Homo sapiens: one gene and its partners. The protein of the gene in region 1 interacts with the protein of each later gene in a pairwise test. Each region holds a gene or a part of one and is shown in the gene's direction. Other genes may lie near its edges.

Evidence for each region.
Region 2: the proteins of DEUP1 (region 1) and CCDC187 interact in a two-hybrid assay, tested with the Homo sapiens proteins (one large-scale study listed by BioGRID).
Region 3: the proteins of DEUP1 (region 1) and ZNF460 interact in binary tests that used the Homo sapiens proteins (3 or more experiments, as listed by UniProt).
Region 4: the proteins of DEUP1 (region 1) and FBF1 interact in binary tests that used the Homo sapiens proteins (3 or more experiments, as listed by UniProt).
Region 5: the proteins of DEUP1 (region 1) and DGCR6 interact in a two-hybrid assay, tested with the Homo sapiens proteins (one large-scale study listed by BioGRID).
Region 6: the proteins of DEUP1 (region 1) and KRT3 interact in binary tests that used the Homo sapiens proteins (3 or more experiments, as listed by UniProt).
Region 7: the proteins of DEUP1 (region 1) and DGCR6L interact in binary tests that used the Homo sapiens proteins (3 or more experiments, as listed by UniProt).

Annotation. Positions count from the first base shown.
Region 1 is NC_000011.10:93,431,742-93,435,241, forward strand, and holds part of DEUP1 (deuterosome assembly protein 1), read left to right. Parts: intron 1-496; coding exon of another isoform or gene 497-511; exon of another isoform or gene 512-764; intron 765-3,052; exon of another isoform or gene 3,053-3,299; intron 3,300-3,500. UniProt on the Homo sapiens protein: Key structural component of the deuterosome, a structure that promotes de novo centriole amplification in multiciliated cells.
Region 2 is NC_000009.12:136,287,095-136,290,594, reverse strand, and holds part of CCDC187 (coiled-coil domain-containing protein 187), read left to right. Parts: coding exon 1-109; intron 110-541; coding exon 542-636; intron 637-3,274; exon of another isoform or gene 3,275-3,500.
Region 3 is NC_000019.10:57,290,485-57,294,569, forward strand, and holds the end of ZNF460 (zinc finger protein 460), read left to right. Parts: intron 1-214; coding exon 215-1,746; 3' UTR 1,747-3,585; downstream 3,586-4,085. UniProt on the Homo sapiens protein: May be involved in transcriptional regulation.
Region 4 is NC_000017.11:75,913,543-75,917,042, reverse strand, and holds part of FBF1 (fas-binding factor 1), read left to right. Parts: intron 1-1,903; coding exon 1,904-2,026; intron 2,027-2,110; coding exon 2,111-2,296; intron 2,297-2,744; coding exon 2,745-2,921; intron 2,922-2,992; coding exon 2,993-3,130; intron 3,131-3,223; coding exon 3,224-3,341; intron 3,342-3,500. UniProt on the Homo sapiens protein: Keratin-binding protein required for epithelial cell polarization. Involved in apical junction complex (AJC) assembly via its interaction with PARD3. Required for ciliogenesis.
Region 5 is NC_000022.11:18,909,320-18,912,588, forward strand, and holds the end of DGCR6 (protein DGCR6), read left to right. Parts: intron 1-660; coding exon of another isoform or gene 661-779; intron 780-852; coding exon 853-953; intron 954-1,568; coding exon 1,569-1,709; intron 1,710-2,220; coding exon 2,221-2,370; 3' UTR 2,371-2,769; downstream 2,770-3,269. UniProt on the Homo sapiens protein: May play a role in neural crest cell migration into the third and fourth pharyngeal pouches.
Region 6 is NC_000012.12:52,789,185-52,793,117, reverse strand, and holds the end of KRT3 (keratin, type II cytoskeletal 3), read left to right. Parts: intron 1-311; coding exon 312-407; intron 408-714; coding exon 715-879; intron 880-1,301; coding exon 1,302-1,427; intron 1,428-1,691; coding exon 1,692-1,912; intron 1,913-2,245; coding exon 2,246-2,280; intron 2,281-2,759; coding exon 2,760-3,076; 3' UTR 3,077-3,433; downstream 3,434-3,933.
Region 7 is NC_000022.11:20,313,738-20,317,060, reverse strand, and holds the end of DGCR6L (protein DGCR6L), read left to right. Parts: intron 1-841; coding exon 842-942; intron 943-1,584; coding exon 1,585-1,725; intron 1,726-2,236; coding exon 2,237-2,386; 3' UTR 2,387-2,823; downstream 2,824-3,323. UniProt on the Homo sapiens protein: May play a role in neural crest cell migration into the third and fourth pharyngeal pouches.

The DNA of each region.
Region 1 (3,500 bases):
AGATCCAGGAAATATTCTGGTGTGTAGACCAGACTTGACAATGAATTGTTTATGGGAAGTGGGAGAAAAGAGTGATTAAAGATGACTCCTAGGATTTCAACCTGAGCATTGAGTAGATGCTAATACCACTTTCCGACATGGGAAGACTAGGGAAGAAATAGGGTTAGAGGAGTAATCATGATTTCTAGGTTGGGCATATAAGTTTAAAATGTTTACTAGACACCCAAACGTAGACATTAAATAGTCAATAGGATATGTGAATCTGATATTCGAGGGAGAGATCAAAGCTGGAAATACAAATGTGGGAATAATCGGCATATGGTTGGTATTTAAGTCTATAGAACTGGATGAAAATACTGAAGTATAAAAAAGAAATCATCCCAATACAAAGCCTTGGGTCATAATATTGAGTGACCTAATGGGAATCCTGAAGGACAGGAGGAAAGTTTGATAATGAAGAGGATGGGGCTCAAGGAGGGTCCTCTTTCATTTGCAGAAACAAAGTCACTGAGAGGTAAGAAGAAATAGGATCTGCAGTATAGGAGGAAGGATGAGTTTCTGAAACAGGAGGATGGCCTAAAATTCAGCTACAGATACAAATGGATGTGGAATAATGAGGGAGCTCCCCTCTGACTCCTAGGAGGAAGCCAGGCCACAACGTAATGAGTAAGAAAGTGAACATACTAGGGAAGTGCAATAGAATCGCCTTGCAGTGTTCACTGACCACATGATATTTATGGTCATGAATTTAAAGTGAAACTAGTCCATGCAGTAATTTACCCCCAACCTGTTGGCTCCAGCATTCAGCTGCTCAGGTGTAGGCAAGACCCGGGCAGATGGGCCAGCTTAATTAGGGGTGGGTTTTACCAGGTTATTAGGATAGAGACAAGATACAGGGGTTTACCAGGTAATGAGGATAGAGACAAGATACAGGGAGGGACAAGTTGCTGAATGGTTATGAGATGGACGGGAATAAGCAGAGTTAGGAAGAGAGAGTATGAGGAAGATGATGGATAGTGAAAAGTAAAGAGTCTAAATGAGGTCAGAGAAATGCTGGCGTGGGAGTACTAGATTAAGCATGCTGGAAGGATGATGGATAGGTTGCTTTAAATCTCAATTAGTAAATAATGCAGTTCTCATTGATGATAGTGTCAAGGACATGCTATGTGGGTGGATGCCTGACATGAAGGATTCTTCAGGGCTCCATCTTTTAACTTCTTTTTTTCCTTTTACTTGCCTATCTTGGATAATTTCAGTCAATCTCATGGCCTTGTCATCTATAACTTCCAAGTCTGTCTCTCTGATTCAGACCTATATTCTGAGTCCTAGATTGACATATCTCACTGTTTACTTGAGTCTGTTTAAGTCTCAAGTCACCTCAAACTCATTATTATTCAAAATTGAATCCATTTTCTTCATTCATAAACTAACTAAAAAATTTTATTGAAAACACACTGGCCTAGAATCTGTGCTAGAACCTGATGAATCAGAAATAAGTAAGAGGCCAGGAGCTGTGGCTCACACCTACAATCTCAGGCCAAGGCAAGAGGGATTGCTTGAGCCCAAGAGTTCAAGACCAGTCTGGGCAACATAATGAGGCTCCGTTTCTATAAAAACTTTTTTAAAAAAGAGCTGGGTGTGGTGGTGTGTGCCTATAGTCCCACCTACTCAGGAGGCTGAAGTGGGAGGATCACTTGAGCCCAGGAGCTGGAAGTTAAGAGTTAGCTGTGGTTGCACCACTGTGCTCCAGCCTGGGCAATAGAGCAAGACACTGTCTCTAAATCAATCAATCAATCAATCAATCCATAAAAAGAAAGAAAGAATATCTTACTCTTAATGGCTTCCTTTACCTTTTTCTCTTTCTCAGTAAATGGCATGAGTGTCACTAATCACTCAGGCCAGAATCTAGGAAGTCATCTCTCTGAGATCAGGTTTCCTAGAATCTGAGATGAGATTCTTGTGAAAGCGATTTACCGAGGGAGTATTTTAGTATTTTCAGGAGGAGAGTGAAGGAGACAGGCTAGGGAAGGGGAGGAAAATTAAGCAAAGATGTGGTCTGAGCTACAAACTAGTATAGCCTGGTGTCCCAGGAAGCTTGGCACATGAATTGCACCACAGCATTTGTTCTCACCAAACAAAAAGTTTGGTATTTTACGCCCCTGTGTCCATCAATCAGTCATTGCCTCAGAGAGGATAGCAAATGGGCAGAGGAGGGACTGCAGCCTCCCAGGTGAGGCAGGAGCCTCCAGTTCGGTGGAGGGCAGTTCCCCAAAGGAGCCAGCTGTGAGCTGTTAGTAGCCAACACCCACCCAGCTAGAGGAGAGATGCATCAGCCTGGGGAAGGGGATCCGGGTAGGGGACCAACCACCATGGTCAACCTGTTGCACCACTCAGAACCACCTTCTTCCATAGCTTCCATTCAGGCATAGCTTCTTCACGATTCTTGCTGGTCATAATTTCTGGAAAAACTGTTGAGAGGAAAGTTAGTGAGATAAGCCACAGCCCCTCATGCTGCAATTGGTCGCTGACACCTATCACTGCCTCACCCATTCTAGATTCCTCTCCCCGTCAGCCAACTCTTCTGTTGATCCAGGTGGCTTTTCTTTTGGGGTGAGCCCCTAATGTCCATGCCCTTATTAGGATATGGTTTCTGTATTTGCCAATTAAAATTAAAATTGGGCATGAGAGTACCAAAAGATGCCTCAGAGGATCATCAGAGTACCAAACACATTCCTCACTGCCTCTGTTATGCAGTAGCAATCTTAACTCTTCAGGATGACTTAGGGTCAGCTACCTCTGCCAATATAGGAACTCCACTCTGTGTGTCTGATCTGTTGGCATGAGGAGCCCAAAGTGACCACATGGGAGCCAAAGCTCTAAGTTTGGTGGGACTCTTACAGGTCTCTTGGTAGAAGCATTCCGCCTCTAAGAGCCAGGACCTGTAGAACAACAGAGCCTAAAGATACATAGACAGAAAGCACAGATTCTCCAAGTGGGTTAACAGAAGTGATAGAGAGTGAAGCCATTCCTACTTCCTCCCTTTTGTTCCCAGATCCATGTATTCTACCCATTGGAAACACAGAACCATAAAACAGCCATCGGTTTAAAGTCTATACCACATCCTGAAGAATGGCACCCCAACCTCACAGGATATAATCTCCAAGCTGGTGCCTCAGCTTTGCCCTCAAGAGGCCGTCCCAAAGCTCTATCATGTTAGCATCCTCTGGATAGTGCTGTGTGTGGTTAGGACCAGTGGATACCATGGTCGTGCCCCCACTGCCATACTCTTTTGCTATAAAGTAGGTACCTTTACTATTAAGCAGGGTCTCTCTCATGTCTGCAGATAAGTGATTCTGTGAGCCCTAAGATAGTGGTGCAGCCAGGAAAGGCAAACACGCAGAATTCATATCCATTCTGATAAGCATACAGCATTGCCCTTTCCAAGGTGCTAGGGACCTATTGCAGTCAAGTTGCCACCAAGAGGCTGGCTGGTCTCCTTG
Region 2 (3,500 bases), on another chromosome or scaffold:
GGAGGTCTACCGGCAGCAGAGGGAGGCCGTCCTCGGCAGGGCGGTCCCCGTGGTCTCCCGGACCACCCCTGGCATCGTGACCTTTGTCCCCAGTTCTGCACAGTCCGGGGTACATGCTGGGGTTGGGTTGGGGGGACTCGGCTCAGCCATGGGCCAGAGGCTTAGGCGCTCAGGTGCTGCCTCCAGCCCCCTGGTGTCCTCCAGGGAGTGGCCGGGCGAGGGCTGCAGCTGGGGGCTGGGGACTTCGTGGCGTCGCTGCCACTGCCTGTAGAAAGCCAGAGCTTCTGTGGATGCCTCCCTGGGGGAGGCCCTGGTGAGGTGCAGGGTCAGACCTGGGCGCCTTTGCCCCTGGGTGCAACGGGGCTCCGGAGGGACCCCCTTGCCTCTCACAGCCCCTGAAGTGGGACCCCGATTCCTGCAAGACTCTGGGGAAGCAGCCTGAGACCCCCAAGGGAGGTCAAGGCCTAGCTCTGAGGCTGAGAGAACGGGGCGTGTGGTCTTCCCGAGCGGGGGGCTCTGATGGCATTGCCCTCTACTTTAGGGCCTGGAAGCCTCCGGGAGCCTGGAGTCCCCAGTGCTGGAATGGAGCAAAGTGACCTCTGGCATGGTGCTGGGGGGCCAGGAAGCCCCAGGCAGGTGGGTGTGAAAGTGTGGGTGCTGCACATGCCGGGCGGGGCCTTGGGGGGGGCCAAGAACAGTTCTGGGTGCGTTCTGGGGCCCTCGTGACATTGCCTCATGACCGAGAGGCTCCTCAGGTGGGGCAGGCTCTGCCCTGCCCGCCCACAGTGCCACCTGCCTGCTTGGAGGAGGCGGTCACCACTGTGCTTGTTCTCATGGAGGCAAGAGTCGCATCAAACTTAAATCCACCACGTTAAAGTGCACGTTCCGTGGCATTGAGCACCTTCCCCGTGTGCTGTGCAACCACCACTTCTACTGAGTTCCGGAACATTCCATCTCCCCATGAGCCCCCACCCTCAGGAGGCAGCCCCTCCTGCAGCCCTTGTGGGGGAGCCATGGGGGTCTCCTTTCTGCCTCGACGGATTTGCCTATTCTTTTTTTTTTTTTTTTTTTTTTTTGAGATGGAGTTTTGCTCTGTTGCCCAGGCTGGAGCGCAATGGCACGATCTTGGCTCACCGCAACCTCCACCTCCCAGGTTCAAGTGATTCTCCTGCCTCAGCCTCCTGAGTAGCTGGGATTATAGGCACCTGCCACAACGCCCGGCTAATTTTTTGTATTTTTAGTAGAGACGGGGCTTCACCACATTGGCCAGGCTAGTCTCGAACTCCCAACCTCAGGTGATCCACCTGCTTTGGCCTCCCAAAGTGCTGGGATTATAGGAGTGAGTCACCGCGCCCCGCCCGGATTTGCCTATTCTTGACATTTTATCTAAATGGGATCACCAAGTACGGGTCTGGCTTCTCTCACCGAGGATAACGTTTTCCAGGCTCATTCAAGATAACGTTTTCCAGGCTCATTCATGTTGCAGCTTGAGTCAGAACTTCATTGAGTCTGTGGCTGAATAATGCCCGGCTGTGGGCAGGTGACCTTTTCTTCACAACCTCGTGGCCAACGGATGCCCGGGCTCCACCTGCCGCTGCCGTGAATGGGTGCTTGCACCTGCTTTGGCCCTTGAGCTGTTTCTCTTGGGTGCACACCTGAGAGTGAATTGCATGGGCACGTGCACCTCTGTGTGCAGCTTTCTCGGGAACTTGCACCCTGTTCTCCACAGCAGCCGCCCTGGTTCCCATCCCCCGGCCGGCGTGAGGGTCCCCATCTCCCCACTTCCTCACAGCGCTTACTTTTAGGTTCTTTTCTGTGTTTCTGTTTTGCTTTGACTACTGTGTATTTTAATTTCTGGAGGCCCCTCCCCCTGGGGCATCGTGAATCACACACATGGGGTCTGAAGACCTCCCCCAACTTTGCTTGGGGGAGTTGCGCCTGGGTCTCACTACAGTTTCCAGCCTGGCTCTCGCCCAGGAAGGGCTGTGGAAGGCCCCAGCTTCAGGCCAGTGGCAAACACTCTCTGGCCTGGCCTCACGCTAGGCACCTGTGAGGAGCTCACGGCCAGGCCTCCTGCATGCCCTGGGTTCCAGCGGGCAGGGGGAGCTGGCTCAGAGGCCAGGGAGGGGCTCCCACCCACCAGAGCGTCCCACCCTGGACTCCCTCAGGGCTGCCCCTGGCGTATCTTTGGCAGCTGGTATTGGGGGCTTCAGGCTGGCCCCTGGGAGCTCAGCTCCCACCCCTCTCTGCAGGACCCGACCCCTCCCTCTGGCTCCTTTTGGCTCCATTTTGTCTTGAAGGCACTCGTTTTGGGATTCTTTCCCGGGAGTCTGGGTCACAGGGCAGCCCAGGGGCTGCATCTGTCAATGTCCAGTAAGACAAGGACGCAGGTCCTGAGTATGCCGCTGGGTGAGCATCCCATGCTGGCCCCGCCATGCCACCCCCTTCCCAAGGGCAGCCCCTCCCCCACTGGCCACCGTCGGGCTCCGTTTGCTTGACAGCCTCCCGAGTAGCTGGGACTCGTCGTCTCGGGCAGCTGCAGGGCCTCATCTCACTTCATCATGTCCTTGTCCTTTTTTTTCCCCACCTAAAAAATTATAGCTGGGCATGGTGGCTCCCACCTGTAATCCCAGCACTTTGGGAGGCTGAGGTGGGAGGATTGCTTGAGGCCAGGAGTTTGAGACCGGCCTGGACAACATAGTGAGACCCTATCTCTATTTTCTCCAGAACTCTTCATCTTCCCAAACTGACACTCTGTCCCCATGAAACACTAACTCTCCATCTCCTCCCCAGCCCTTGGCAGCCACCATTCTACTTCCTGTCTCTATGGATTTGCCTGTCCCAGGACCCTCACGTGAGCAGGAACACGCCATGCTTGTCCTTTTTGTTACTGAAACACCAGGGGTTTGGTCTCAGTCTTGCTGCTTGCCACACAGAAGGCCAATCGCGGAGACAATGAGTATTGCCAGGGAAGAGGCTTTAATTGGGTGCCGCAGCCGAGGAGGTGGGGGCTCAGTCTCAAATCCAACTCCCTGACTGACTAAAGTTGGGGTCTTGCGTATCAGGGAAGGAATGCAGCTCCGTGCAGGAAACGGGAACTAGGGAAGGGTAAGGAAGCAAGCGTGATGAACGAGGACTCTGGCGTCTCATTGTCCAGTTGCGGTGATCTGGTGCGTTTCAGCTCCTTGATTCTATGTGGGAGGCCTGATGGTAGGTTTCCTGAGAAAGGAACTCAGGTAAGACAAATGAAACTTTCTCACATGTTAAGACCGGCCAGGCTCATTTCTATGTTTATTCAAAAGAAACCATGAACGTGAGTTCCAGGGGACCATCGGGCCAGTTTCATTTTGTGGCTGGCTGACTTATTCTACCAAGGGTGATGTTGTAGCCTGCGTCGGAATGTCCTTCCATTTCAGGGCTGAATACTATTCCGCCGTGTCGGTGGACCTCATTTTGCTTCTCCGTTCGTCCCTCGATGGACACTGGGTGGTTTCCACCTT
Region 3 (4,085 bases), on another chromosome or scaffold:
CCAGGCTGGTCTCAAACTCCTGACCTCAAGTGATCCGCCTGCCTTGGCCTCCCAAAGTGCTGGGATTACAGGGATGAGCCACTGTACCCAGCCCATCAAATCATAGCTATTTTCAAATCATCACTATTTTCATCTTATTGTTCTCACCAAAAAGGTGGTTTCATTTCTTCTGTACTATCTTAATAAGTTCTTTTGTGTATTGTGTTCCCTTCAGGTGACAGCACAAAACCTGAGACCGTAGAGCCTATCCCTTCTCATCTGGCCTTGCCTGAGGAAGTCTCACTCCAGGAACAGCTGGCACAGGGAGTCCCAAGATACTCCTATTTGGGGCAGGCCATGGATCAAGATGGGCCATCTGAAATGCAGGAATACTTTTTGAGACCAGGGACAGACCCACAGAGTGAGAAACTCCATGGGAAAATGAGCCTTGAACACGAAGGTTTGGCGACAGCTGATGGTATTTGTTCAATGATGATACAGAACCAAGTCTCACCAGAAGATGCTCTCTATGGATTTGACTCATATGGACCAGTTACAGATTCCTTGATTCATGAAGGGGAAAATTCCTATAAATTCGAGGAAATGTTTAATGAGAATTGCTTCCTTGTTCAGCATGAGCAGATTCTCCCTCGTGTGAAGCCCTATGATTGCCCAGAATGTGGGAAAGCCTTCGGCAAGAGCAAACACCTCCTTCAGCATCACATCATCCATACTGGGGAGAAGCCCTATAAATGCCTGGAGTGTGGGAAAGACTTCAACCGCAGGTCACACCTCACACGGCACCAGCGGACTCACAATGGAGATAAGCCCTTTGTGTGCAGTGAATGTGGAAGGACCTTCAATCGCGGGTCGCACCTTACACGGCACCAGCGGGTTCACAGTGGAGAGAAGCCTTTTGTGTGCAATGAATGTGGAAAGGCCTTTACCTACCGCTCCAATTTTGTCTTGCATAACAAGAGCCACAATGAGAAGAAACCCTTCGCATGCAGCGAATGTGGAAAAGGCTTTTATGAGAGTACAGCCCTCATTCAACACTTCATTATCCATACTGGGGAGAGGCCCTTTAAGTGCCTTGAGTGTGGGAAGGCCTTCAACTGCAGGTCACACCTCAAGCAGCATGAGCGGATTCACACTGGTGAGAAGCCCTTTGTGTGCAGTCAATGTGGAAAGGCCTTCACTCACTATTCCACCTATGTCCTGCATGAAAGAGCCCACACTGGAGAAAAGCCTTTTGAGTGCAAAGAATGTGGGAAAGCCTTTAGCATTCGAAAAGACCTCATTCGACACTTCAACATCCACACTGGAGAGAAGCCCTATGAGTGTTTACAGTGTGGAAAGGCTTTTACCCGCATGTCAGGGCTCACAAGGCACCAGTGGATTCATACTGGAGAGAAGCCGTATGTATGCATCCAATGTGGGAAAGCCTTTTGTCGGACCACAAACCTGATTCGACACTTTAGCATCCACACTGGAGAGAAGCCCTATGAATGCGTGGAGTGCGGGAAGGCCTTCAACCGCAGGTCACCCCTCACAAGGCACCAGCGGATTCACACTGCAGAGAAGTCCCACGAACCCATCCAGAGTGGGAACGTTTCTTGTGAGAGCACAGATCTCATTCAACACTCCATCATCCACACTGAGAGTAGCCCAGTGAGTGCAGTGAATATGGAAACGCCTTCAATTGCCGCTCATTCCTCCTCACTCGACATCAACGGATTCATAGTGGAAGAAACCCTACCATTGTAACAGATGTGGAAAGACTTTTTACGTACACTTCAGTCAACATCCAAGAATTCCTATTAGCGAAATAGTTTTTTAATATAACCACTGAAGAAAATCTGTGGTGAGAGGAAACATCTTACCATCTGGTCATTCATACTGAAGAGAAACTCCATAAGTATCATCTCTGTGGGAAAACCTGTTTTAGATCATCATTTGTCATCTAAACAATTATGTTAGAAATTGACACAGCCAAGAGTCTTATTCTACATCTGATAATTCACCCATGAAAGAGACCCAGTGGTTACTGTGCACTTAGGAAAACCTTCAGCCACATCTTTCTTATTAGTTTACAGTGAAATGTTATCTCAGGGACATTCAAACAAAGGAGGAGGAGTCATAGGGAAGAGAAAGAAATGGAAGCACAGCTTCTTTCAGACTTCCCTGACAAGCCCATGGCAATTTGTCATCCCCTCCTTATTTTATTTGGGAGAGGGAAATGTTTCAGAAACAAAAGGGCCTCATCCCCTTTATTTTCCCTGTGTATACATTCACTGCTGTCCAGTGCTGTAGACAAACGGTTTGTTTGAAAACATTTTGTGAAAGCCTGCTTTGTTCCACAGCATTGTCTCCACTCTTGAGGAGCAGAAGCATATATCTTTATGAGAAAGATGGAGGCTTGAGTTATGAAATACTTTTACATTTAAGGAGATAAAGGATGTACATATGAATGGGCACATTTTACTGCACACTTCAGACGCTTTGACTTTTTTAAAAAAATTGTTTCTCCGTGTGTCTTTAACCACCCAGTACCATACTTTTTTCTTGATCTGGATCTACTTGTCAATTTCTTCTTTATTTTTCTGTAGGATGGAGATGATATTGTAGCTGTTTGTACATAATGTAATCCAGGGAGTCCTAATTCTTCCCTCTGATTGTGGTTTCTCAGCTTTTTTACTGCTCTTTAGAGAGAGTAAATAGTTCAAAATTCACCTCAACAATTTTCTAGAGGTCAATTTGGAACCAAAAATGAAATAAGACATGTAGCTAAAGTAAGTTAAAAGATTATGATAAACTCAGAAAATAAACACAGAGAAGGAATCTCATTTTTCAGTCTTACAGAAGATTGTGTGAAGGCTGACTATACATAAAGTGACTGGAATTTTAACAGGTGAACCTGCATATGTATATGCAGGTAGTTGTCACCATGGATTGAGTCCAGTCGTAGTAATTAATATGTTTAATCAGAATATTTTGGAATTTCTCTTTTGGTATTCTTTTTGTTTCTTTTATTGTTTTTAATTGACAATGTTTATGGGGTTTGGTGTGATATTTCAATACATGTGTGCTAAGAGTAATGATCAAATCAGGGTAATTAGCATATCCATCTCAATCATTTATCATTTCTTTGTGTTTAGAAACATTCACAGTCTGCTTTTCTAGCTATTTGAAAATATAAAATGTATTATTGCCAATTGTACTCATTCTGCAGTGCCACAGAACACTACAACTTATTCAAATGGAATCTTACTTGCTGTAATTTTGTATTTGTTAACCAATCTCTATCTGCCTCTCTGCTGTCCTTCCCAGCCTCTGGTTACCACCATTCTCAACCTTTTATGCTTGCATATGAGTAGAAACATGGAGTATTTCTCTTTCTGTGTCTAGCTTATTTCACTTAATGTCTTTCAAGCTCATTCATGTTGCTGTGAATGACAGGTTTATTTTTCATGGCTGAGTAGTATTCCATTGTGTATATATGCCATGTTTTCTTTCTTCATTCATCTGATAATGGACACTTAGACTGATTTCTTAGCTATTATGAATAGTGCTTCAATAAACATAGGAGTGTAGATCTCTCTTTGACGTATAGATATATTTGTTTTTGCATATATGCCCAGTAGTGGTATAGATCATTACCAGTGGATCATATGGTAGTTGTATTTTTAACTTTTGTTTATTTTTCATTTTTTAAAATGGGGTCTTGCTGTGTTATTCAGGCTGGTCTCAGACTCCTGGGCTCAAGCAGTCCTGCACCTCAGCCTCCTGAGTAGCTGGGACTACAGGCACACACCACCGTGCCTGGCTATAGTTTTAGATTTTTGAGGAACATTCATACTGTTTTCCATATGGCTATACTAATTAGCATTCCTACCAGCCATATATAAGAGTTCCCCCTTTTCCATGTTCTCAGCAGCATTTTTTATTTTTTATCTTTGGTAATAGCCATCCTAACTGAGGTGAAATTATATCTCATTGTGGTTTTGATTTGCATTTCCCTGATTAGTGATGTTGAGCATTTTTTCATATACTTGGCCATTTGTATGTCTCCTTTTGAGGGATGTCTATTCACCTTATTTACCCAT
Region 4 (3,500 bases), on another chromosome or scaffold:
AAACTAAAAATAAAGAAATAAGAAACTAGCCAGGCGTGGTGGCGCACGCCTGTAATCCCAGCTACTAGAGAGGCTGAGGTGGGAGAATCGCTTGAATCTAGGACACAGAGGCTGCAGTGAGTGGAGATCATAACATGGCACACCAGTCTGGTTAACAGAGCGAGACTCTGTCTCAAAAAAATAAATAATAAAAACATTTAAATTTTGTTTTAATTAACTGGGTGTGGTGGTGCACACCTGCAGTCCCTGCCTTTGCTCACATCCTTTTCCTTACCTGTGGAAATCTTTCTAGGCTGAATTCAATGGTAATGAATCTTTCGATGCTACCACCTCCACAAAGCCTTCCTTGTCCTCCCACCTATCTTTTTGTCCTCAGCTAGTAGTTATCATCTTCTAAGGTTTTACAAAGCACTGTTATTTTTTAGAGACAGGGTCTTGCTCTGTTGCCCAGGCTGGAGTGCAGTGGTGTGATCATAGCTCACTGCAGCCTGACCTCCTTGGCTTAAGCCATCCTCCTGCCTCAGCTTCCTGAGTAGCTGGGACTACAGGCGCAAACCACCACACCCAGCTAATTGTGTATTTTTTACTGAGATGTGGGTCTTGCCATGTTGCCCAGGCTGGTCTTGAACTCCTGGGCTCAAGCAATCTGCCCACTTAGGCCTCCCAACATTTTGAGAGTACAGGTGGGAGCCACCATGCCTGGCCAAAAAAAAAAATTTTTTTTAGAGATGGGGTCTCACTGTCACTCAGGCTGGAGTGCAGTGGCAAGATCTCAGCCCACTGCAGCTTGAACCTCCTGGGCTCAAGCAATCTTCCCACCTCAGCTGCCAAGTAGCTGGGATCACAGGTGCATGCCACTATACCCAGCTAATTTTTTGTATTTTTTGTAGAAACGGGGGTTTGCCATGTTGCCCAGGCTGATCTCAAACTCCTGAGCTCAGACAAGCTGCCCACTTTGGCCTCCCAAAGTGCAGGGATTACAGGCGTGAGCCACCATGCCCAGCCAAAAACTTTTTTTTTTTTTTTTTTTTTTTTGAGTCAGAGTCTCGCTCTGTCACCCAGGCTGTAGTGTAGTGGCGCAATCTCAGCTCACTGCAAACTTCGCCTCCTGGGTTCAAGGGATTCTCCTGCCTCAGCCTCCTGAGCTACTGGGATTACAGGCAACTGCCACCACGCCCAGCTAATTTTTGTATTTTTAGTAGAGATGGGTTTCACCACGTTGGCCAGGCTGGTCTTGAACTCCTGACCTCAGGTGATCCACCCGTCTCAGCCTCCCAAAGTGCTGGGATTATAGGGCTGAGCCACTGTGCCCGGCCCAAAAAAATGTTTTTAAAGAAGAAAATAAAAATATCCCACTAGTCAGAGATGTCCACTGCTGACCTGATATCTATCCTGTAGCCATGTCAACGTAGATAGAGATGCTTTTATGTTGTGAAGCATTTTGATTCGCCTCTTCATTTGGTAACTGTGTTAAGCATCTGCCTGGGGTCAGGCACAGTGAAGCTCTCGCCTTGTGCTGTGTGTGGCTGGGCCCACAGCACAGCATTAAGCCACCCTGTGCTTAGCCTGCTTGGCTGATGGGTGAGGACAGGCAGAGTGCGTAGCTGGCGATTCAGCGGCAGGGATGTTGCTGCTCTTTGGCCCTCCCAAGCTGCTAGCCTTGGTGCTGTTGGAGACCTGAGGGTTGGGAGGGCACCTGCTGGGTCCTTCTCTTGGGCAGAATCGTGCGGGCTGGGCCCTGGCAGTGCCTCCCAGGCACCCCTCATTTTGTGCCTCTTTGGGAAGGACGTGTCAGTGGCATAGTGTGGGAGACACTGGTGGGTTCATGCAGCTTCTCAGGGAGTGGCCAGGCGTGATCCTCAGGGCGGGAACCACGCTCTCAGTCCTGCCCTGGGCCCTACAGGAACGCTGGCGGGTGACTGCCGAGCAGTCCAAGGCGGAGTCCATGCAGCGCGCCCTAGAGGAGCAAAGGAAGGTCACGGCCCAGCAGATGGCCATGGAAAGGGCGGAGCTGGAACGGGCCAAGGTGAGTCAAGCCACCGCACTCAGCCCCTGCCCCTGCCATTATGCCCAGGGACACTCACCCCGTGCCTTCACCCCCACATCCCAGAGCGCCTTGCTGGAGGAGCAGAAGTCTGTCATGCTCAAGTGCGGGGAGGAGCGGCGGCGCCTGGCTGCCGAGTGGGCGGAGTTCTCCGCGCAGCAAAAGCTGAGTAAGGAGCGGGCCGAGCGCGAGGCCGAGCGGGCATTGCAGGTGGACACCCAGCGGGAGGGCACCCTCATCAGCCTGGCCAAGGTAGGGCCCAGAGCCTCCGGACAGTGGAGGGCCCAGGGTTGCCTGCGCCCCTCCATCTGGACACATCCGCTTCCAGTCTTAGGAAAGGAGAGTGTAGCACTAATGTCACAAGAGCATAGGGATTAAAACAGTAATCGCATCATCATGCTAACATCTTCCTCGTATTGTCCCAGGTGCATTATACACATTTTATTTGATCCTCATGTTCCCATGACTTTGGTCATTTAGAAATGAGGAAACCGAACTTCAGAGTTGAGCCTGCCACAGTCACGTGGCTTGTGAGGGCAGCACTCCGGCTTGGCCCCAGGCTTCTCTGGCTCTCCCTGGAAGCCCCTGGCTCCACCACCTCCTCCCAGGGGCAGGGTGGGCAGAGGGGACCCTAGAGTCCTGCACAGAGTGCAGCGCAATTCCTGGGAGGAGAATGCAGCAGGGCCTCCGCTGTCTCCAGGAGCAGGCTGAGCTGAAGATCAGGGCCAGCGAGCTCCGGGCCGAGGAGAAGCAGCTGGCAGCGGAGAGAGCAGCCCTGGAGCAGGAGCGGCAGGAGCTGCGGCTGGAGAAGGAGAGGATCAACGCCACCGCCCTGCGTGTCAAGCTCCGCGCCGAGGAGGTGGAGAGCATGAGCAAGGTGCTGCTCGGGCACATGGGCGTGGGCGCATCTGAGCCCAGGCAGCCCTGACCCAGGCGGCCTCCCTGCAGGTGGCCTCCGAGAAGTACGAGGAGGGGGAGCGGGCATTGCGCGAGGCCCAGCAGGTGCAGGCAGAGCAGCAGGCCCGGTTGCAGGCGGTGCAGCAACAGCAGGAGCGGCTGCGGAAGCAGGAGCAGCACATGCACCAGGCAAGGCTCCCTGAGTGTATGGCGCCCCTGCCCCCGGCACCCCCAGCCTCCCACCTCACAGCTGAGTCCTTCTTTCTGGGGGAACGGGGACAGGAGCATCTGAGTCTGGCCCAGCAGAGGCTGCAACTGGACCGCGCACGACAGGACCTGCCCTCTAGCCTCGTGGGTCTGTTCCCCAGGGCCCAGGGCCCTGCAGCCTCCAGCCAGAGTGGTGAGTGGCTCCAGAAGGAAGGGCCGGCGGCTCAGGACTGGGCAGGGGCAGTGCTAGGAGTGGGCAGGCCCTCCTCCAGCCGCTCCAGTTAAGGCGGCCAGCTGGGTTTTATAGTCGCCTTATTTCTTTTTTACACAAATAATGTGTGTTAATTTTAGA
Region 5 (3,269 bases), on another chromosome or scaffold:
ACGTTTTGTTGTGGCCAGGGACCCCTCCTTCCTGGGGAACTGTAGCCATTTGGCACTTAATGCACTGGCGCCAGCTGCGGGGTGCTCCATGTTCCATTTTGCCATGATGGTTTATGTCCCATGATCGCTTCCTCTGTACACTCCCTTCAGACTAGAGTTTGCACATCTGTGTTTGTGCACAGTTTAGCAGGGACCGTGGAGCTTTGCTTGGTGGCCGAGGGTGAGCCCCTCAAAGCCACACAGACTCCCTGGCCCAGAGCCTCACAGGCTTATGACACCCCAGGTTCATCCCAAACTTGGGCCTCCCAGGTCAGCTCACCCTTCTCCCTCTGGTGCTGTGTAGGGGCTGGGAGCTGCAAATGGGGGAGGGGGCTGCCCACCCTGAAGGGCAGCACCAAGGGTGGAGGGGCCAACCACACACCTGGTAGGCAGAGGCCCCACGCTCAGGGTCAGCGACCCGGCTCCTCCTGCTCCTTTCCCATGCCTTTGCCTGAGGTGGTCTCCAACACTTGAGTAGATGTCCTATGGCCTGTGGCCACGGGGGCCCTGAAGCCCTCAGACTGCAGCCTCCCTCCCGCCTGCCCCCTCCAGCTGCCCTGGGTCTGGGGCTGCAGCTTTGGCCCCACCTGGCCAGTCTTCCCCACCCCCACTCTCTTTCAGTGCCCCGCACCTTCTGGAATCCCCTGGAGACTTGCCGTGACAGTGGGGTGGGAGGATGGAGGAGGCTGGCGTCCTCCCCAGTGCAGACACCCCTTTGGCCTGGCTGCTCTGCTGGGTTGGTAAGGCAGGTGCCCATGGGTGAGGGCTGCTGCCGAGTCCCACCGCCTGCTGACGGGCTCTCATCCCTCCCAGTGCTCAGGCAGGCGCTGCGGCAGAAGCACCAGGAAGCCCAGCAGGCCTGCCGGCCCCATAACCTGCCTGTGCTTCAGGCGGCTCAGCAGCGAGAACTAGAGGTACTGGGGACGCAGGCAGGGTGGCCGGCCCAGCTCTCCTGTGGGCACCACCTGGCTCTGCTGACTGGGCTGAGCTGAAGGGGTGTGGGGGGCTCAGGTGTGGGTGGCTACCCTGGGCCTGAGTGGGACACTGGAGGCCTAGTGAGTCCCACCAGGTGGCTCCTCGCTGAGGGTGCCAGGTGTGCTGGGACTGGGTGGAGGGTGAGAACCCACCAGTGCTCCCCTGGAGTCCATTAGTGCCCCTCGTGGGTTGGGGTCTCCGCAGAGCAGGTGGCCTCGGGGGGTACAAAGGCAATGGTGGGGTGATGGGGCCAGCCAGGAAGGGGCCCATCCTTCTCCCCGGGAGCACAGGGACAACCAGAGACCGGCATGTAACCAACAAGTCATGGGGCAGGGTGTGCCTGCGGAGATGTGTGTGTGGTCCCAAGGCAGTCCCAAGTCAAAGCATTCGTGGAAGCCCCTTGGGGCCCCCTTCAGGGGTTCACTTGGCCGAGGAGAGGCCTGGGTGTGGTGAGGATGCATTGGTGGTGTCAGAGCTGGTGCTGTTGGGGACAGCAGCAGGAGCATGTGTTTGAGCTGCCCTCACCTCCCCCGCCGCCCCCGGCCCCACGGCAGGCGGTGGAGCACCGGATCCGTGAGGAGCAGCGGGCGATGGACCAGAAGATCGTCCTGGAGCTGGACCGGAAGGTGGCTGACCAGCAGAGCACACTGGAGAAGGCGGGGGTGGCTGGCTTCTACGTGACCACCAACCCACAGGTCAGTGCCTGGGCCTGCTCTGTCCTAGCCCGAGTGCCCCTGGGCCCCATTCCATCTGGGATTTCACTGCTGGTCCCTGGGGAGCCAGGCTCAGGGTATAGGGGGTGAAGTGGAAGGATTGAGGCTCTGGAAAGGATTTCTGTGCCATTCCCAGCATGGAGGCCAGGCCCATTCCCTACAGGGGGGTGAGCCAGCCAGCCATGGGCACTGCCCACCCTCCCCAGGCCTGCTGTGCCCCACAGGGCCCTCTTCTGCTCCCCTCCCGCATGCCATTCCAAGTGGCCCTGCTGGGTGCAGAGGCTCAGATTCCGAGTGGCCCTGCTGGGGGCAGAGGCTCAGATTCCGAGTGGCCCTGCTGGGGGCAGAAGCTCAGATTCCACCCTGTCGTAGCAGGCCATGACCAGGCTTCACAGGATGGTCGCCCCGTGGGCTCACTGCCTGGCACCTTTGGGCCGGGATGAAAGGGGCCTGGGGGTCACTCTGGCCTTCATGGGGCCCCTCTGTATCCCAGGAGCTGATGCTGCAGATGAACCTGCTGGAACTCATCCGGAAGCTGCAGCAGAGGGGCTGCTGGGCAGGGAAGGCAGCCCTGGGGCTAGGAGGTCCCTGGCAGTTGCCTGCTGCCCAGTGTGACCAGAAAGGCAGCCCTGTCCCACCATAGCCACAGGCAGCAGAAGTCTGGGCAGAGTTCATCTTCTTGACCTTTGGCCACTGCCTTCCCAGCTGCCCGCAGGGGGTTCCCCCTGCTGAGGAGAGACCAGGTGGACCCCAGCTGCCTGTCACCCTTCATCTGGGACTTGCTGTCAAACCCTAGGATAGTCTCATAAAGGGGAGGCTGGGCCAGCCTGCTGCTGTCTGCTTCAGGGCCAGGCAGAGAGTGAGGCTGGGGGTTCTCACACCTTACTCCACCGGGCACATCCCAACCTGCACTGGGGCCCACTCGAGCGCTTGTTCTGGTCTCAGCCGCTCCCTTGGCAGCTGCAGCCCCCATGCAGAAGAGGCTCCCAGGCCCAAGCTCTGTGTGACCCAGAGAAATAAAGATGCCTCAGTGTGGCCCGCATGTGGCTTGTGTGATAGCTGCAGGTTCTGCCATAACCGGGGCCCTGGTAGGGCCCCCACCTCTGTTGCAGCAGAGGCCTCTACCTGGGGGCCCCTTCCTGGGCTGTGTGCCCAGCCCACCACCCCTCCCCCTGCCTGGAGACTGGGACCCTCCAGCCTTTCCTGCCCCAGCCCTGGTCCCAGGATGCTGTCACTGCCATCTGTACAGGGGCCCCCATCCAAGCCCCAGGGCATGAGGACCACATCCAGCCTGCTTTGTGGGGCTGGGGGCTGGAGAGCATGGGAGAAGGCCCGAAGTGCAAGTATGCGCCTGCCGCAGCCTGGTCAGTGTCCTGTGGGAACCACTAGGAGGAGCCTGATGCAGGTCACTGGGGTAGAGGACTCAGGGTGGCAGGAATGGCCTGAGGAGGAGCCCTGCGGGGAGGCGTGCCAGGCCCACCTGGGGAGCTTGGCCTCTGCATCTGCATGAGTCCCCTCCGTGCTGGCCTGGGCCCATGGGCC
Region 6 (3,933 bases), on another chromosome or scaffold:
CTGGCTGGGTTGGGGGAATCTCCTCACTCCACTGCCACAGAGCTGCCAAGTTCAGGCCTTTGGAGCAATAAACAGAAGTCAGGTGCACCTTAGTCTGGAAGATCCCTAAAAGAGTTAGTTCATCAGTCTTTAGTTTTTTAGTAGGATTAAACTTAGACCATCCTAATGAGATACAAATTGCCCGTTCAAGTGGAGACTGGTCTTAGACAAGGACCATCACTGCACCAGTCCCCTCTGCTCTTTCTTGCTGCAGTTGTGGTTTGCTGTTTGTTCATTGGGAGAATAAGGCCTTTATCTTCCTCTTTTCTCAGGATGTGGACAGTGCCTATATGAACAAGGTGGAGCTTCAGGCCAAAGTGGATGCCTTGATAGATGAGATCGACTTCTTAAGGACCCTCTACGACGCTGTAAGGATGTTACCTACTAAGAAGGGACAGAGGGAGAGTGAGGTGTTTCCAGATTTGAGGCTGGTGCATTTTGGTATATAGGCCCCAGAAGACATCTGGAATGAGCCTGGAGATGAGGACCCTTGGAAGGGATTCCACAGGATAAGCTGCAGACATGGGGTTCTCTGAGTGGCTGCGGACAGGGTGTGGCTGATACACATGTGGAGCAAGGAATCAGTGAATGAGACTGTTGATCAAGAGTCTTTCAGGGCCCTGTGTGCTTGTTACAGGGACCCCAAAAGTGAACAAGCTCCCTCTGTGTTGACAGGAGCTATCTCAGATGCAGAGCCACATCAGTGACACATCTGTGGTGCTGTCCATGGACAATAATCGCTCCCTGGACCTGGACAGCATCATTGCTGAAGTTCGTGCACAGTATGAGGATATCGCTCAGAGAAGCAAGGCCGAAGCTGAGGCCCTGTACCAGACCAAGGTGGGTGCTAGTCACCTCTTACGGGATCCACTGGAGGTTTCAGAGAGGCCATGGCCTATTGGACAGCTGGGTAGTGAGTTCCCAGTGGTCACTGGGTGAATGCCTTTTGGTTTTACCCTCTGAAGTCATCCTTCTAATGGTGGTTCAGTTGCAGAAAGTCTTGCCCCTGGGGGAGATGGTTGCCTGCTATGTGGGACTGACTCCAACTTGCTCAGGAACTACAGGGTAGGAAAATCTTCTACCACAACAACCCAGATGTTCTCTTTCCTGCTGCCTTGGGGGTTTCCCTGCTGAAACACAATGCAGTATCATTTTAGCAAATGCCTTACTGAGCTTCTGAAGGTTTGGTGGGTGATGTTGGAGGTGTAGAAACAAGTCAAGCAAAGCTGCAGGAATACCCCATCTTCCCTTCTGTTCTGCAGTTGGGGGAGCTGCAGACCACGGCTGGCAGGCATGGGGATGACCTAAGAAATACCAAGAGCGAGATCATAGAGCTCAACAGAATGATCCAGAGGCTGCGGGCAGAGATCGAGGGTGTCAAGAAGCAGGTGGGATGGTCATGGATGCTGGCACCTGGGATGATTGCTGAGGGGCAGGGGCTAGGATCTCAGGACTCCTCCCCTGGAATAGACGTCTGGAGGTCATCTCAGGCTGGCTGACCCACAGGGCAGTATCTCCACAAATGGAGACAAGATGGAGGCACTAGGGGAGGAGGAATGTTCCCTGACTTTAAGATGGGATAATCCATTGCATGTCAGGAAGGGCCTGGGGCCCTCTTACTGAGCTCATTCCTCCTACCTCCCTTGCCCCAGAATGCCAACCTGCAGACGGCCATTGCCGAGGCCGAGCAGCATGGAGAGATGGCCCTCAAGGATGCCAATGCCAAGCTCCAAGAGCTGCAGGCTGCTCTACAGCAGGCGAAGGATGACCTGGCGCGGCTGCTACGTGACTACCAGGAGCTGATGAATGTCAAGCTGGCCCTGGACGTGGAGATCGCCACCTACCGCAAGCTGCTGGAGGGCGAGGAGTACAGGTGAGCCTCCAGTCCCGTCTTCCCACACCCCCTGGCTCAAGTCATAGGCCAAGGGCCAGATAAGTGACCAAGTAACTGGGGATGGAGCCCTGCTGTATAAAGAGAGGCCTTGTGGTGAAGCATTTGCCTCTACCAGCCCACTCCCTCCCAGGGCACGTATGCAACCAGTGCCCACAGGCTCTCCTTGCTACAGCCCAAAGAGGGGTGGAGAAAGCTTACCTGATTTGCCAGGCTTCTCTGTTCAGCTCTGGTTGCTATTCATGCCCTTGGTCCGTGGACTTGTTGGTGATGTGCTTTGTGACGGGGCCCACTTTCTCTTGCTTTCTCAAACAGGATGTCTGGAGAGTGTCCGAGTGCTGTCAGCATCTGTAAGTACCGAAAGTAGCTAAGAAAATGAGAGTTAATTCTGAAATATCTGCACTAATCCAGGGTAGTAGCAACTAATTTAAACATATTTTTACGGAAGTTGGAGGGGTTTTCTGGGAGAGGAGAGGGAAGTGATTGGCTTTTGTAATTGTTCTGGGTTCAGGGCACTTTTAATAGGCTTCGACGGCCAATGTGGAATATCCAACAGGGGGCCTCTTGATAGGAGGATAAATTCAGACGCTAGATCCCCTCCAAGGGGGTCATCAAGACTGTACTGTGGGAGGAACCACTGGCTAATTCATAATGGCTTAACGGCAGGGGAGTGAGTAGCTAGTGGCCTTGGAACGGCTCGTGGTGAACATCCTGTGCAAAGCTGCCTTGATCAGCTCTGGATAGTCGTGGGCCCGGTGGATCATTGACAATAACATAGCAGCTGGCCTGGGCGCCGTCGCTGATCGCTGTCCTGTCCTCTCCCCCACAGCCGTGGTCAGCAGCAGCACGACTTCCGCCTCCGCAGGTGGCTATGGAGGAGGTTACGGCGGAGGCATGGGCGGTGGTTTAGGAGGTGGCTTCAGTGCGGGCGGCGGCTCAGGCAGTGGCTTTGGCCGGGGAGGCGGCGGTGGAATCGGCGGTGGATTTGGCGGCGGCAGCAGCGGTTTCAGCGGTGGCAGCGGCTTTGGCTCCATCTCTGGCGCCCGCTATGGAGTCAGTGGCGGGGGCTTCAGCTCGGCCAGCAACCGGGGCGGCAGCATCAAGTTCTCCCAGTCCTCCCAGTCCTCCCAGCGCTACTCCAGATAAAGAGCACGCATCAGCATCGCAGCCACTCCAGCGCCTCCCCTCCGCTCCCCACGCCCCCATATTGGCAACACCCCCAGCGCCACCCCATGCTCCCCAAGAACGCGGCTCTGCGCTGGAAGGCTTGTGGCCTCTTGCTCCTCCTTCCAGATCCCCGGCCAAGCCCAGTCACGAGAATTTCAGGCTCTTCTCTCCGGCTCCAGCCTGTGCCTGTGATTGTCCAGGTGTGGCCTAGGCCGCCACCTTCTGCTGCCCCGGAGTCCCCTCCCTGGGTGGGATGCTCACTACAGCTCTGATGTATATAGCACACAGCCCCCTCCGCCCCTCCGGTCTGTCGCCAATAAAGTGCACTGTGTTTCACTCCGGGCCTCTGAGTATTCGCTCCATGTCCTTCTCCTTAGGGCACTGAGCTCCCTGGTCACCTCCCTGGCCTCCCTGCCTCTGCCTCTCCCATGTGGGCTCTGTGATCCACAGAGCAGCTGGAGAACTCTTCCTCTGAAACAAAGGCAGTTCGTCTTCTCAGTCCATGGTGCGGATCCGGTTGTTCATTATTCTGTGAGCACCGTGGGGAGGGAGAGGTCCTGCTCCCCGACGCTGTTGTACCCTGTGTACCCTTACCGTCCTTAGTGGTGAAGGCTGGCCCATGCAGACATCTGTCTCCTCCCTGTCTTCTCTCATGTGGGGGAACTAAGAGGGCCTTGGGGACAGAGGGTTTCTTCCCTTGGTGTTGATTCTCACTCCAGCTGACATCGTGAAAGCTTTTCCCCCATCAAGGTGCTCCGGGAAAGTGCGGGCTGCTGGAAGCCCAGGGATGGAAATAGGCCCCAGAGCAGCCTATGTCAAAGTCTGACCCAGGAACA
Region 7 (3,323 bases), on another chromosome or scaffold:
TTTGGCCAGGGACCCCTCCCTCCTGGGGAGCTGTAGCCATTTGGCACTTACTGGTCACTGGCGCCAGCTGTGGGGTGCTGCATGTTCTGTTTCATGGTGGTTTATGTCCCATGATCGCTTCCTCTGTACATTCCCTTCAGACCAGACAGTTTGCACACATCTGTGTTTGTGCACAGTTTAGCAAGGACCGTGGAGCTTTACTTGATGGCTGAGGGTGAGCCCCTCAGAGCCACACAGGCTTATGGCACCCCAAGCTCATCCCAAACTTGGGCCTCCCAGGTCTGCCCACCCTTCTCCCTCTGGCGCTGTGCGGGGGCTGGGAGCTGCAAATGAGGGAGGGGCTGTCTACCCTGAAGGGCAGCACTGAGGGTGGAGGGCCCGACCACACCCCTGGTAGGCAGAGGCCCCACGCTCAGGGTCAGCGACCCCGCTCCTCCTGCTCCTTTCCCATGCCTTTGCCTGAGGTGGTCTCTGACACTTGAGTAGATGTCTCATGGCCTGTGGCCATGGGGGCCCTGAAGCCCTCAGACTGCAGCCTCCCTCCCGCCTGCCTCCTCCAGCTGCCCTGGGTCTGGGGCTGCAGCTTTGGCCCCACCTGGCCAGTCTTCCCCACCCCACTCTTTCAGTGCCCCGCACCTTCTGGAGTCCCCTGGAGACTTGCCACCAGATAAGGGCCCGGCCCTGGGTGACAGTGGGGTGGGAGGATGGAGGAGGCTGGCATCCTCCCCACTGCAGACACCCCTTTGGCCTGGCTGCTCTGCTGGGCTGGCAAGGCAGGTGCCCATGGGTGAGGGCTGCTGCCGAGTCCCACCGCCTGCTGACGGGCTCTCATCCCTCCCAGTGCTCAGGCAGGCGCTGCGGCAGAAGCACCAGGAAGCCCAGCAGGCCTGCCGGCCCCACAACCTGCCTGTGGTTCAGGCGGCTCAGCAGCGAGAACTAGAGGTACTGGGGGCGCAGGCAGGGTGGCCGGCCCAGCTCTCCTGTGGGCACCACCTGGCTCTGCTGACTGGGCTGAGCTGAAGGGGTGTGGGGGCTCAGGCATGGGTGGCTGTCCTGGGCCTGAGTGGGACACTGGAGGCCTAGTGAGTCCCACCAGGTGGCTCCTCTTTGCGGATACCAAGTGTGCTGGGGCTGGGTGGAGGTTGAGAACCCACCAGTGCTCCCCTGGATAGCAGCTCCTCGTGGGTTTGGGCCTCCACAGAGCAGGTGGCCTCAGGGGGGTACAAAGGCAATGGTAGGGTGTTGGGGCCAGGAAGGGGCCCATCCTTCTCCCAGGGAGCACAGGGACAACCAGAGACTGGCATGTAACCAACAAGCCGTGGGGCAGGGTGTGCCTGTGGAGATGTGTGTGTGGTCCTAAGGCAGTCCCAAGCCAGGGCATTCGTGGAAGCCCCTTGGGGCCCCCTTCAGGGGTTCACATGGCCGAGGAGAGGCCTGGGTGTGGTGAGGATGCACCGGTGGTGTCAGAGCTGCTGCCACTGGGGACGGCAGCAGGAGCATGTGTTTGAGCTGCCCTCACCTCCCCGCCCCCTGATGGCAGAGCTGCCCTCACCTCTCCCCCTCCGCGCCCTGGCCCCATGGCAGGCCGTGGAACACCGGATCCGTGAGGAGCAGCGGGCGATGGACCAGAAGATCATCCTGGAGCTGGACCGGAAGGTGGCTGACCAGCAGAGCACACTGGAGAAGGCGGGGGTGGCTGGCTTCTACGTGACCACCAACCCACAGGTCAGTGCCTGGGCCTGCTCTGCCCTAGCCCGAGTGCCCCGGGGCCCCATTCCATCTGGGGTTTTACTGCTGGTCCCTGGGGAGCCAGGCTCAGGGTATGGGGGTGAAGTGGAAGGATTGAGGCTCTGGAAAGGATTTCTGTGCCATTCCCAGCACGGAGGCCAGGCCCATTCCCTACAGGAGGGTGAGCCAGCCAGCCATGGGCACTGCCCACCCTCTCCAGGCCTGCTGTGCCACACAGGGCCCTCTTCTGCTCCCCTCCCGCATGCCATTCCGAGTGGCCCTGCTGGGGGCAGAGGCTCAGATTCCGAGTGGCCCTGCTGGGGGCAGAGGCTCAGATTCCGAGTGGCCCTGTTGGGGGCAGAAGCTCAGATTCCACCCTGTCCTGGCAGGCCATGACCAGGCTTCACAGGATGGTCGCCCCCGTGGGCTCACTGCCTGGCACCCTTGGGCCGGGATGAAAGGGGCCTGGGGGTCACTCTGGCCTTCATGGGGCCCCTCTGTATCCCAGGAGCTGATGCTGCAGATGAACCTGCTGGAACTCATCCGAAAGCTGCAGCAGAGGGGCTGCCGGGCAGGGAATGCAGCCCTGGGACTGGGAGGTCCCTGGCAGTCGCCTGCTGCCCAGTGTGACCAGAAAGGCAGCCCTGTCCCACCATAGCCACAGGCAGCAGAAGTCTGGGCAGAGTTCATCTTCTTGACCTTTGGCCACTGCCTTCCCAGCTGCCCGCAGGGGGTTCCCCCTGCTGAGGAGAGACCAGGTGGACCCCAGCTGCCTGTCACCCTTCATCTGGGACTTGCTGTCAAACCCTAGGATAGTCTCATAAAGGGGAGGCTGGGCCAGCCTGCTGCTGTCTGCTTCAGGACCAGGCAGAGAGTGAGGCTGGGGGTTCTCACACCTTACTCCACCGGGCACATCCCAACCTGCACTGGGGCCCACCCGAGCGCTTGTTCTGGTCTCAGCCGCTCCCTTGGCAGCTGCAGCCCCCATGCAGAAGAGGCTCCCAGGCCCAAGCTCTGTGTGACCCAGAGAAATAAAGATGCCTCAGTGTGGCCCAAATGTGGCTTGTGTGATAGCTGCAGGTTCTGCCATAACCGGGGCCCTGGTAGGGCCCCCACCTCTGTTGCAGCAGAGGCCTCTACCTGGGGGCCCCTTCCTGGGCTGTGTGCCCAGCCCACCACCCCTCCCCCTGCCTGGAGACTGGGACCCTCCAGCCTTTCCTGCCCCAGCCCTGGTCCCAGGATGCTGTCACTGCCATCTGTACAGGGGCCCCCATCCAAGCCCCAGGGCATGAGGACCACATCCAGCCTGCTTTGTGGGGCTGGGGGCTGGAGAGCATGGGAGAAGGCCCGGAGTGCAAGTATGCGCCTGCCGCAGCCTGGTCAGTGTCCTGTGGGAACCACTAGGAGGAGCCTGATGCAGGTCACTGGGATAGAGGACTCAGGGTGGCAGGAATGGCCTGAGGAGGAGCCCTGCGGGGAGGCATGCCAGGGCCACCTGGGGAGCTTGGCTTCTGCATCTGCATGAGTCCCCTCCGTGCTGGCCTGGGCCCATGGGCCCTGCTGGGTCCTTGTGGAGTCAGGGTTGGGGGTGTCCA